2 separate regions of the Homo sapiens genome follow, and region 1 is reported to be linked to region 2. Evidence: microRNA targets listed by miRTarBase, many of them from high-throughput screens and not tested one by one. Region 2 holds a microRNA gene; the other region holds the end of a gene's coding sequence.

Region 1 (5,222 bases), not on the chromosome of region 2:
CAGTGGCTCACACCTGTAATCCCAGCACTTTGGGAGGCCGAGGCAGGCAGATCACTTGAGCTCAGGAGTTTGAGACCAGCCTGGCCAACATGACGAAACCCCATCTCTACTAAAAATACAAAAAAATTAGCTGGGCATGGTGGCGGATGCCTGTAATCTCAGCTACTTGGGAGACTGAGGCAGGAGAATTGCTTGAACCTGAGGGGTGGACGTTGCAGTGAGCTGAGATCACGCCACTGCAGTCCAGCCTGGGTGACAGAAATCCTGTCTCAAAAAAAAAACAAAAAAGTTTTATCTAATAGTCATAAAAAAGGAAGCCAAGTGAAAAATTACTTAAACCAAGTGTGTTGATACATTAAGCTATGAGACATCTAAAATAATGAAACTTGGAACTTAGTGGAACATGTACATGTTTTCAGCATACTTAAACCCAAAAATCATTAATTTTCAGAACTTAATCAGTGCTTTTACATTTGTTTTTTCTTTTATGCTAGTTGGAAATGGAGGATGAAGATACAATTGATGTGTTCCAACAGCAGACGGGAGGTGTCTACTGAAAAGGGAACCTGCTTCTTTACTCCAGAACTCTGTTCTTTAAAGACCAAGATTACATTCTCAATTAGAAAACTGCAATTTGGTTCCACCACATCCTGACTACTACCGTATAGTTTTCTCTATTCTTTCATTTCCCCCTTCCCCATTCCTTTATTGTACATAAAGTAACTGGTATATGTGCACAAGCATATTGCATTTTTTTTTTTTTTAACTAAACAGCCAATGGTATGTTTTGATTGACATCAAGTGGAGACGGGATGGGGAAAAATACTGATTCTGTGAAAATACCCCCTTTCTCCATTAGTGGCATGCTCATTCAGCTCTTATCTTTATATTCCAGTAAGTTATTTTGCTCTCACTGTTTTAACAAAAAAAAAAAACAACAACATAAAAATCCTTGCATACCTTGTTCAATTGGAGAATTTTAATGTTTTTCATTTATCATTGTAAAACCAAGGACAATTTTATAACTTTTTTGTACGTAGCTGTTACATGTAGGGCAATCTGTCTTTAAGTAGGGATAAATTACTCTAAAACAAAAAAGAATCCTAGATAGTTTTCCCTTCAAGTCAAGCGTCTTGTTGTTTAAATAAACTTCTTGTTTAAAATGAGCTGTTTTCTTTATTCTGAGAAATATTAAATAGAAAATTGAGGCTTAGAAAAAACATAAATAGGCCTGCTTAGAAGTAACATTTCAAGAAGGAAATAAAGCTACTTGGTGTTTCTGACAGACTGATACTGATGCCAAACAAAGAATAACAGTTTTATAAATATCACCTTGTTCCAAAAGTTTCTCTAGGTCCCATGTTAATATGCAAGTATACTAGCAGAAAAATTGGGCCATAGTATCGTGGATTTCCAGGTATTTTCTGTATATTAAGTGAGGCACGGAGCATAGGGTATAGGGTAGCACATGTGGCAAGGAAAAAGTTCTGATTTTGCCTTTGTTGCTGATAAAACACTGAACCATTCTAGCCTGCACTTATCATAAGTAAATACTCCCTAACCTAAAATAAAGTTTTCGTTCCTTATTCAAGGATTTTTTTTTTGAGACGGAGTTTTCCTCTTGTTGCCCAGGCTGGAGTGTAGTGGTGCAATTTCAGCTCACTGCAACCTCAGCCTCCTGAGTAGCTGGGGGGTCATAGGTGCATGCCACCACGCCCAGCTAATTTTTTTTCTATTTTTAGTCGAGACAGGGTTTTATCACGTATGCCAGGCTGGTCTCGAACTCCTGACCTTAGGTGATCCACCCGCCTCAGCCTCCCAAAGTGCAGGGATTACGGCATGAGCCACCACGCCTGGCCTATTCAAGAATATTGAGGGACAGAAAATATCTATATATATCCATCCTCAGAACCTTAAATATACAGGTCACTACAGTCTTTATTATTTTAATTTTTGTTTCTTAGGGTTTCTTTTGGTGGTGGTTTTTTGAGATGGAGCATCATTCCGTCTCCCAGGCTGTAGTGCAGTGGCACAATCTTGGCTCACTGCAAGCTCCGCCTCCCGGGTTCACGCCATTCTCCTGCCTCAGCCTCCCGTCTTAGGTCTTTTTGAAAGAGGTTATGCCTCTGTTGCCTAGTCTGGAGTGGTGCAATGGTGTGATCTTGGCTCACTGCAACCTCCACCTCCAGGTCTTAAGAGATCCTCCCTGCTCAGCCTCGTGAGTAGCTAGAACCGCAGGTGCATGCCACCACAGCTAATTCTTGTATTTTTTATAGAGAGTGTTTCGCCATATTGTCCAGGCCGGGCTCAAACCCCTGATCTTAAGTGATCTATCTGCCTTAGCCTCCCAATGTGCTGGGTTTACAGGCGTGAGCCACTATGCCCAGCCCCTTTTTAATTTTTTAAAAATGTTTATTTTTGAGATGGAGTTTCGCTCTTGTTGCCCCAACTGGAGACCAATGACATGATCTCAGCTCACTGCAACCTCCGCCTCCCGGGTTCAACTGATTCTCCTCCCTCAGCCTCCGGAAAAGCTGGGATTACAAGCATCTACCATCATACCTGGCTAATTCTGTATTTTTAGTAGAGAAGGGGTTTCTCTATGTTGGTCAGGCTGGTCTCCACCTCCCGACCTCAGGTGATCTGCCTGCCTTGGCCTCCCAAAGTGCTGAGATTACAGGCTTGAGCCACTGTGCCCGGCCAAATTTTTATTATTTTTAAATTAGAGGTGGGGTCTCACCATGTTGACCAGTTTGGTCTCGAACTTCTGGCCTCAGTCCCTTGTCTTGGCCTCCCAAAGTGTTGGGGTTTCAGGTGTTAGACCCCATGCCCAACCACTACAGTTTTTGTTTTTGTTTTTGTTTTTTTTTCAGACGGAGTCTTGCTCTGTCGCCCAGGCTGGAGTGCAGTGGCGCAATCTTGGCTCACGGCAAGCTCCACCTCCCGGGTTCACGCCATTCTCCTGCCTCAGCCTCCCCAGTAGCTGGGACTAAAGGTGCCCGCCACCATGCCCGGCTAATTTTTTTGTATTTTTAGTAGAGACAGGGCTTCACCATGTTAGCCAGGCTGGTCTCAAACTCCTGACCTCAGTTCATCCACCCGCCTTGGCCTTCCAAAGTGCTGGGATTACAGGCATGATCCACTGCGCCCGGCCTCACTGCCATTTTATAGATGAGAAAGCCAAGTTCCAGAAAAGTTGTGAAATAGACGGTGACTATAAAACTGGGACTAGAGATAGTATCCTAATGCTTGTTGATTGTTTTTGTCCATACTGATTGTCAACCTACCAATATAATCTACCATCAAGTCACCATGTAGTATTATGTGTTATTTCTCTTAATCTGCTGTACCTTTGTTTTTTGTTTTTTTGAGACGGAGTCTTGCTCTGTTGCCCAGGCTGGAGTGCAGTAGCGCGATCTCGGCTCACTGCAAGCTGCCTCCCGAGTTCACGCCATTCTCCTGCCTCAGCCTCCTGAGTAGCTGGGAGTACAGGCACCCACCACCATGCCCGGCTAATTTTTTGTATTTTTAGTAGAGACGGGGTTTCACCGTGTTAGCCAGGATGGTCTCGATCTCCTGACCTCATGAGCTGCCCGCCTCAGCCTCCCAAAGTGGTGGGATTACAGGCGTGAGTCACCGCGCCCGGCTGCTGTACCTTTGTTTTGATACACTCTTTACATTCCCTGTTTCTATAGCAAATGAGCATTGCCAGTGACAACAGGAATGCAGTAGATTTTTCTTTATGTTTGTATATGTATGAATTTTACTCTTGAATCAGCTAGACTAATTTTCCTATATGTACAGTGCCACCAGCTTGTTTTTTTAAAATTTGTGGGGTTTTTTTGTTTGTTTGGTTTTGGAGACAGAGCCTCCCAAGTAGCTGGAATTACAGGCGCCCACCACTATGCCTGGCTGATTTTTTTGTATTTGTAGTAGAGACGGGGTTTCACTGTGTTGGCCAGGCTGGTCTCAAACTCCTGACCTCAGGTGATGCGCCTACCTTGGCCTCCCAAAGTGCTAGGATTACAGGCGGGAGCCACCGCGCCCTGTTTATTTTACTTTTTTTTTTGAGATGGAGTCTCACTCTGTTGCCCAGGCTGGAGTTCAGTGGCGCAATCTTGACTCACTGCAAGCTATGCCTCCCGGGTTCACGCCATTCTTCTGCATCAGCCTCCCGAGTAGCTGGGACTACAGGCACGCGCCACCATGCCCGGCTAGTTTTTTGTATTTTTTAGTAGAGACGGGGTTTCACTGTGTTAGCCAGTATGGTCTTGATCTCCTGACCTCGTGATCCGCCTGCCTCGGCCTCCCAAAGTGCTGGGATTACAGGCGTGAGCCACTGTGCCCGGCCTACTTTTTTTTTTTTTTTTTTTTTTTTTAATGGAGTCTTGTTCTGTCCCCCAGGCTGGAGTGCAGTGGCAGGATCTCAGCTCACTGCAACTTCCGCCTCCTGGGTTCAAGTGATTCTCCTGCCTCAGCCTCCCGAGTAGATGGGATTACAGGCGTGTGCCATCACACCTGGCTAATTTTTTATATTTTTGGTAGAGATGGGGTTTTACCATGTTGGCCAGGCTGGACTCGAACTCCTGACCTCAAGTGACCCACCCGCCTCAGCCACTCAAAGTGCTGGGATTACAGGAATGAGCCACCGTGCCCAGGCAATGTGTGTTTGAGATGCCTAGCATGGTGTCTCCCACATGTAAGTTGTCTTTTGTTTTTATCTTTTTTTTTTTCTTTTTCTGAGACAGAGTCTCACTGTCTCTTTGGTACCCTAAGAAGCAAAGCATCCATCTACAGGATGAGTTAGAGTTCTGATTATCTAAATGGTGACTTGAAAGTTACTGCTGGTTGTGGTAGGAAATAGAGGCATACCTCACAGGGACTACGGGCTTGGTCCCAGACTGCAGCACTACAATAAAGAAGTCATCTCAATAAAACGAGTCACACAAATTTTTTGGTTTTTCAGTGCATATAAAAGTTATGTTCAGCCCTGGCAATATAGTGAGACCCTGTTTCTACAAAAAATAAAAGCCAGGTGCAGTGGTGCATGCCTGTAGTTCCAGCTACTCTGAAGGCTGAGGTGAGAAGATTGCCTGAGCTCGGGGGGAGGCCGAGGCTGCAATGAGCTGTGATCGCGCCACAGCAGTCCAGCTATGTTGACGGGGTAAGACCCTGTCTTGGAAAAAAAAAAGTTTATATTGTAGTCAGGTATTCGGTAGCAT
Region 2 (5,222 bases):
AGGGAAAGTGTGATTGTCTACTTCAAGTTGTTTTCAAGTGAATGTTAAAAAGAAAAAAAAGAAAACAACAACAACAAAAAACTTTTGAAGAATAATACCCTGTAACTAGAAAATGCTTTGGAACCAGAAGGAAAGACATGTATAGCCTGCATAGAATCCCTGTGCAAATCCCTCATCTGGAATATGCATAAACCTGCTGTGAGCAAAGTGAAATCTTTCCCCCCTGGTGCCCTTCCTATCAGTAACTCCACATCACTGCTTGCAATTGACACATCTCTCCCCCCGCCCCACCCCGCTTGATCATTTTGAAAAGTATATGTTATTTTTAAGCGTCAACTTATTTCAGGAATGTGTACAGTCTTTCTTAATAAACTGCAGATAACAACATAAGAATTGGGAAGCCCCACTTTAATTTCCCCAGACTGGGAGAGGACAGAGGCTGCAAGGATCAATAAAGAGACTACAGTATGGAAACCAGACTCAAATCAAGGACTGGATATAAGCAGCTGGAGCAGAAGTCTTCAGAAACCAAGCCCACCCTGACTCCTAGCCCTACTTTTGGGGAGCCTGCCACAGATGGTACCCCTGCTGACTGCAAGGCCTGGCACAAGCCCCAGGGTCTCCAAGCCATTTGAATGGTATTGAACAGAGCGCAAACCTACCTTTACAGCTTCTCTTTCTCAAGGGCACTATGCTGCACACCTTTCTAAATATCAAACTGAACAATGAATGTTAAGAGATGCATCAATGGATGAAGCTGGAAACCATCATTCCGAGCAAACTGTCGCAAGGAAAGAAAACCAAACACCGCATGTTCTCACTCATGGTGGGAATTGAACAATGAGAACACTTGGACACAGGGTGGGGAACATCACACACCGGACCCTGTTGTGGGGTGGGGGGAGGGGGAAGGGATAGCATTAGGAGATATACCTAATGTAAATGACGAGTTAATGGGTGCAGCACACCAACATGGCACATTTATACATATGTAACAAACCTGCACGTTGTGTACATGTAACCTACAACTTAAAGTATAATAGTAATAATAATAAAAAGAAAGAAAAGTCTTATTTAGCAAACACTCATATATAGTGCTTGCTATGTGTCAGGAACAGTTCAAATACTAGGTTATTCAATCTTCAAAATGACCCTATGATGATTCAGCAATTCTACTTCTAGGAATGTAACTGAGAGAATCAACAGCAGGAATTCAAACAGATAGCTGTATACCAAGTTCACAGACACATTCATCACAATAGACAAAAGGTAGACACAACCCAAATATTCACAGATCAGTGGATCAACAAGCAGACTATCCATACAATTCATTATTATTAGCCTTAAAAGGGAAGGAAATTCTAACACATACTATCACATGGATGAACCTTCAGGATGCTATGCTAAGAGAAATAAGCCAGAAAAGGACAAGACTGTATGACTCCACTTACATGAGGGACCTAGAAGAGGCAAATCCATAGAGACAGAAAGTAGACTGGTGGGTGCCAGGGGCTGCGAGGAAGGGGTTACTGTTTAATGGGTGCAGAGATTCTGTTTAGGATAATGAAAAAGTTCTTGGATGGTGGTCGTGATTGCACACAATGTGAACGTACTTAATGCCACTGAACTGTATACTGAAAAATGGTGAAAATATGGTTAAAATGGTAAATTGTTATGTGTATTTTACCACAACTAAAAAATGTTTAAAAGTTAAAAAACAGTAAATTTTACTTATATTTTACCATAATAAAAACAAACAACCCTGAAACAGGGAAACAGGTCCTTTACTATAATGCTTATTTTCCAGATGTGGGCACCCCTGGCCAGACCAAACACCACACTGGACACTAGAGACACAGTAGTGAACAAAACAGCCTCTAGCCCTGCCCTGATAGAACCTGCATTCCACTGGGGAGACACATCAACCATCTTTTAATTCAATTAAGGCAGAGACCACAAAGTGAAGAATGGAGCTAAGAGGGCAAATCACAGGGGACCACAAAGTGGGGGCTGTCAGGGCAAAGTTGCCAGGAAGCTACAGAATCCCGAGTTATCTGAAATGTCTACAGCAAACCCCACATGTCACTCTGGTGAGCAAAGGCCTTGACAAGTCAAGAGCTTGCACACATTCCTGCTCTCAATTCATACGTGGTCCAAGCTCTAGCAAACTCCCTAGTGAACAGCAGTCATGCGTGAATCATCTCCAGGACCTGATCAAATGGGTCTCAGAACAGCAGCACAGCTCTCCAAGCCTCCAATGCATTTTCACACCATCTTCTAGCACACTATGGCAGTGAAGAGCATGCATGGTGAAGCCAGACTTCCTGGGCTTGAATCCCAGCCCTGCTGCTCTCTGGCTCTGTAACCTTGGGCAAGTTACTAGATCTCTGAATCTCAGCATCTCATTGTAAAATAGGGTTATTAAATGAGCTGACATACAGGAAGTTTTTACAATTCATTGGTTAGTGTCACAGAAAAAAGCAAGTTTTTAAAAAGTATTTTTTAGAACAATCCTTGCCACATAGAGAGTTAGCTGTTATTCTCATAATCATTATTACCTTATTCCAACCTCATAAGACCCAAGAGGCAGGTGGGGCAAGATCAAACTGCCCCCAGTTAACATAGGCAATTGAGGCAAAGGAAGAGCAAGTTGCTTGAGTTTACATTGCTAGTTAGAGCCCCCTACTCTTCCCACCACACTGTGGCACTTACGATAATTCAAAAGCATTTGATGAAAATTTCTAGCATCTCAACCATATTTGGGCACCTATTATATACCAGATACTGGCCATCCTTTCTTCTAGTGCCTGTAGGAACCAAGAACCCAGGTTCTCCAAGCCCATCATCTTGGTCTGTAATCCCAGCAGCCAAGTTTTGAACGCTTCACTTTATCTACTGGAAAACTGGGCTAAGAGAACAAGCTTTTACTGAGCACCTACAACAGATGCAGTGCTCTACATTACAGGGAAGACAAGAGTGGTCAAACTCATGGTATCTGCCACCCTTCACACCTGGTAGAGGAGGTAAGGAGTCCTCAGCTGAAAGAGAACAATGGAGGGGCAGGTACCACTAATTGCTGAGCCCTGGTGGAGCGCATAAAAGGTAGAGGAATCCAGCTAAGCCAGTCAAGTGTAAGTTGATGTAATCAGGGAAAACCTCACGGAAGAGGTGGGATTTAGGTGGGGCTTTAAAGATTGCTTACTGGGATGATCAATTTTATGTGTCAACTTATGTGGCCACTGGGTGCCCACACATTTGGCCAAGCACTATTCTGGGTGTGTCCATGAAGCTGTTTCTAGATGAGGTTAACATCTGAGTCAGTCGACTGAGTAAAGCAGGTTGCCCTCCCCACTGCGGGTGGGCCTCATGCAATCAGTTGAAAACCCAATTAGAACAAAAAGTCTGGGTAAAAGGGAACCCTGCCTGTTTGAGCTGGGACACTGCTATTTTTCCCACCTTCAGACTCAAACTGAGACATGAGCTCTTTCCAGGTCTCAAGCCTGCTGGCTTTTGGAACTTACACCACTGACTCTGCTGGTTCTCAGGCCTTTGGACTCAGCCTGGAACTACACCATCAGCTCTCCTGGGTTTCCAGCTTGCTGAATGCAGATCTTAGGACCTGTTGGCCTCTGTAATTGTGTGAGTAATTCCATAATATATAAATATGTGTATTTCCTATAGTTATCTTTCTCTAGAGAATCCTAATACACTACTATTGGTTTGGCAGAGAGTAAAAGGGGAGGAAAGCTTCCAGAAGTCTAAGAAATTGAATGAAAAGCGAAGATGTGAAAAAATGAGAGAATAGGAAGGCCATGAGAAAATGGCTTTGAAGGGGGAGAGAGAACAAACAGGAATGAGGACTGTGAGGTGCAACAGCTGATCTGAGAACAGCTGATGGATTCTGAACATGACCCTCCACACAGGTAGATGGGGTGCCTGTGATCTTGAGAATCACACAAAAGCAGAGTTTAGGAGAAGTGATCCCACATGGATAAGCGTAGAAAAGCCTGGAGCCCAGGAGGCCAGCAGCATATACCTGTCCAGGTAGGAGAAGACATGTGGGGTGCGATAGCAGCGCCTAGCTCAGTGACAGGAAGTCTCTCGTGCCTTGAGAACAGAGGACTCTCACACTCCCTTGGATTTATCAACAGCTCGGAGAGCAGTTCTGCACCCTGCCCAGGTACAAAGGCCAAAGAGCCCAGGGAGAAGGCCACGTGCCAGCACCTAAGAATCCGAGATCCTTTACACATCCCCAGTCTGTCACTCAAGCCCTCCGGGTCTCAGTTTCCCTCCCTGTGACATGCGTACCAGAAGGAATGTGAGGATAAAATGTGAAAGAACATTGGAGGAGGAAGTGGCCCAGTGAGAAGGGGGAAACCACCTTCCACCAGAAACTGCTTTGGTGTGAAGCCTCAGAATACCCAATCAGCGGCTGCCGGCTGGAAAAGCAGGCTTTTTATTGACAAACCCGCAGAGGATCACCTTCACAAAACACACCCAGGGCCTAATTAAAATCACAGAAGAACCACCTGCCAAATCTCACGGTAAGTCACTGCTTAATGCAGGGCTGTCAGAGCCGGCTCAGGAGAATGAGGTGGCAGGGAATGCTCAGTGATGTGAAAGGAGCCCAGGCCAGGCCCCACGGTGGTGGGAGCATGGCCTGATGGACGGAGAGGGATGGAGGGCTGGGCCCAAGCAGGACTGTGGAGAGGGCAGGGACTTCCCAGTACAGCAATTCCTGGAGCTGGAGCTAGAGCTTATCTCACATTTACAATCCCATAGACTCCAGCAAATGCTGTCCACACAGCACACTTACCACAAACCCAGGGCATCCCTTTCTCCTCAAGGGAACTTCAACAGACAAGCTTCTGCCCTATATTAATTGTCATGCCACCAATGTAACTAAAACACCATATATATTCCATGAAAGGAAACAGGAAATGAACTCCGATAAGGCAGAAAACTCAAATCACTGGAGCTCTTGTCCAGCATTCTGATTTAAGGAATGCAGGCAAATGATCCACGAGCTAATACCAGAGATGTGATCATAACAGCTGTACTTACAGACACCTCACCATACGCCAGCCCATTTCCTAGAGCCTTTCTGTAGTAACTTCTTTAATTCCCACAGCCCTATGAAACATCATCTCCATTTTGCAGATGAGGAAACTAAATGTGAAGAAGTGGAATAACTTGCCCGAGGTCCCTAGGGAGTAGCAGAG

Evidence for each region. The annotated mature microRNA hsa-miR-4320 reads GGGAUUCUGUAGCUUCCU and lies in region 2 at 2,030-2,047, opposite strand. An mRNA with a match to its seed (bases 2 to 7 or 8) in the 3' UTR can be bound and repressed. Matches are read on the target gene's strand: a 7mer-m8 pairs with bases 2 to 8, a 7mer-A1 pairs with bases 2 to 7 and ends in A, and an 8mer does both.
Region 1: the mRNA of SUMO2 is a reported target of hsa-miR-4320. Seed matches in the 3' UTR shown: 7mer-m8 at 1,098-1,104.

The regions. Positions count from the first base shown.
Region 1 is chr17:75,163,674-75,168,895 of GRCh38, reverse strand. It overlaps SUMO2 (small ubiquitin like modifier 2), which reads left to right. Exons shown (of 4, transcript NM_006937.4): 4 at 495-3,310. The coding sequence ends at 557. Among named protein-coding and RNA genes, the nearest start is that of JPT1, 12 kb to the right of the region's middle.
Region 2 is chr18:50,124,480-50,129,701 of GRCh38, forward strand. It overlaps MIR4320 (microRNA 4320), which reads right to left and starts at 2,084; the gene lies at 2,020-2,084. The region is part of intron 1 of MYO5B (myosin VB); the gene reads right to left. RefSeq lists an enhancer at 2,878-4,077 and a silencer at 4,420-4,479.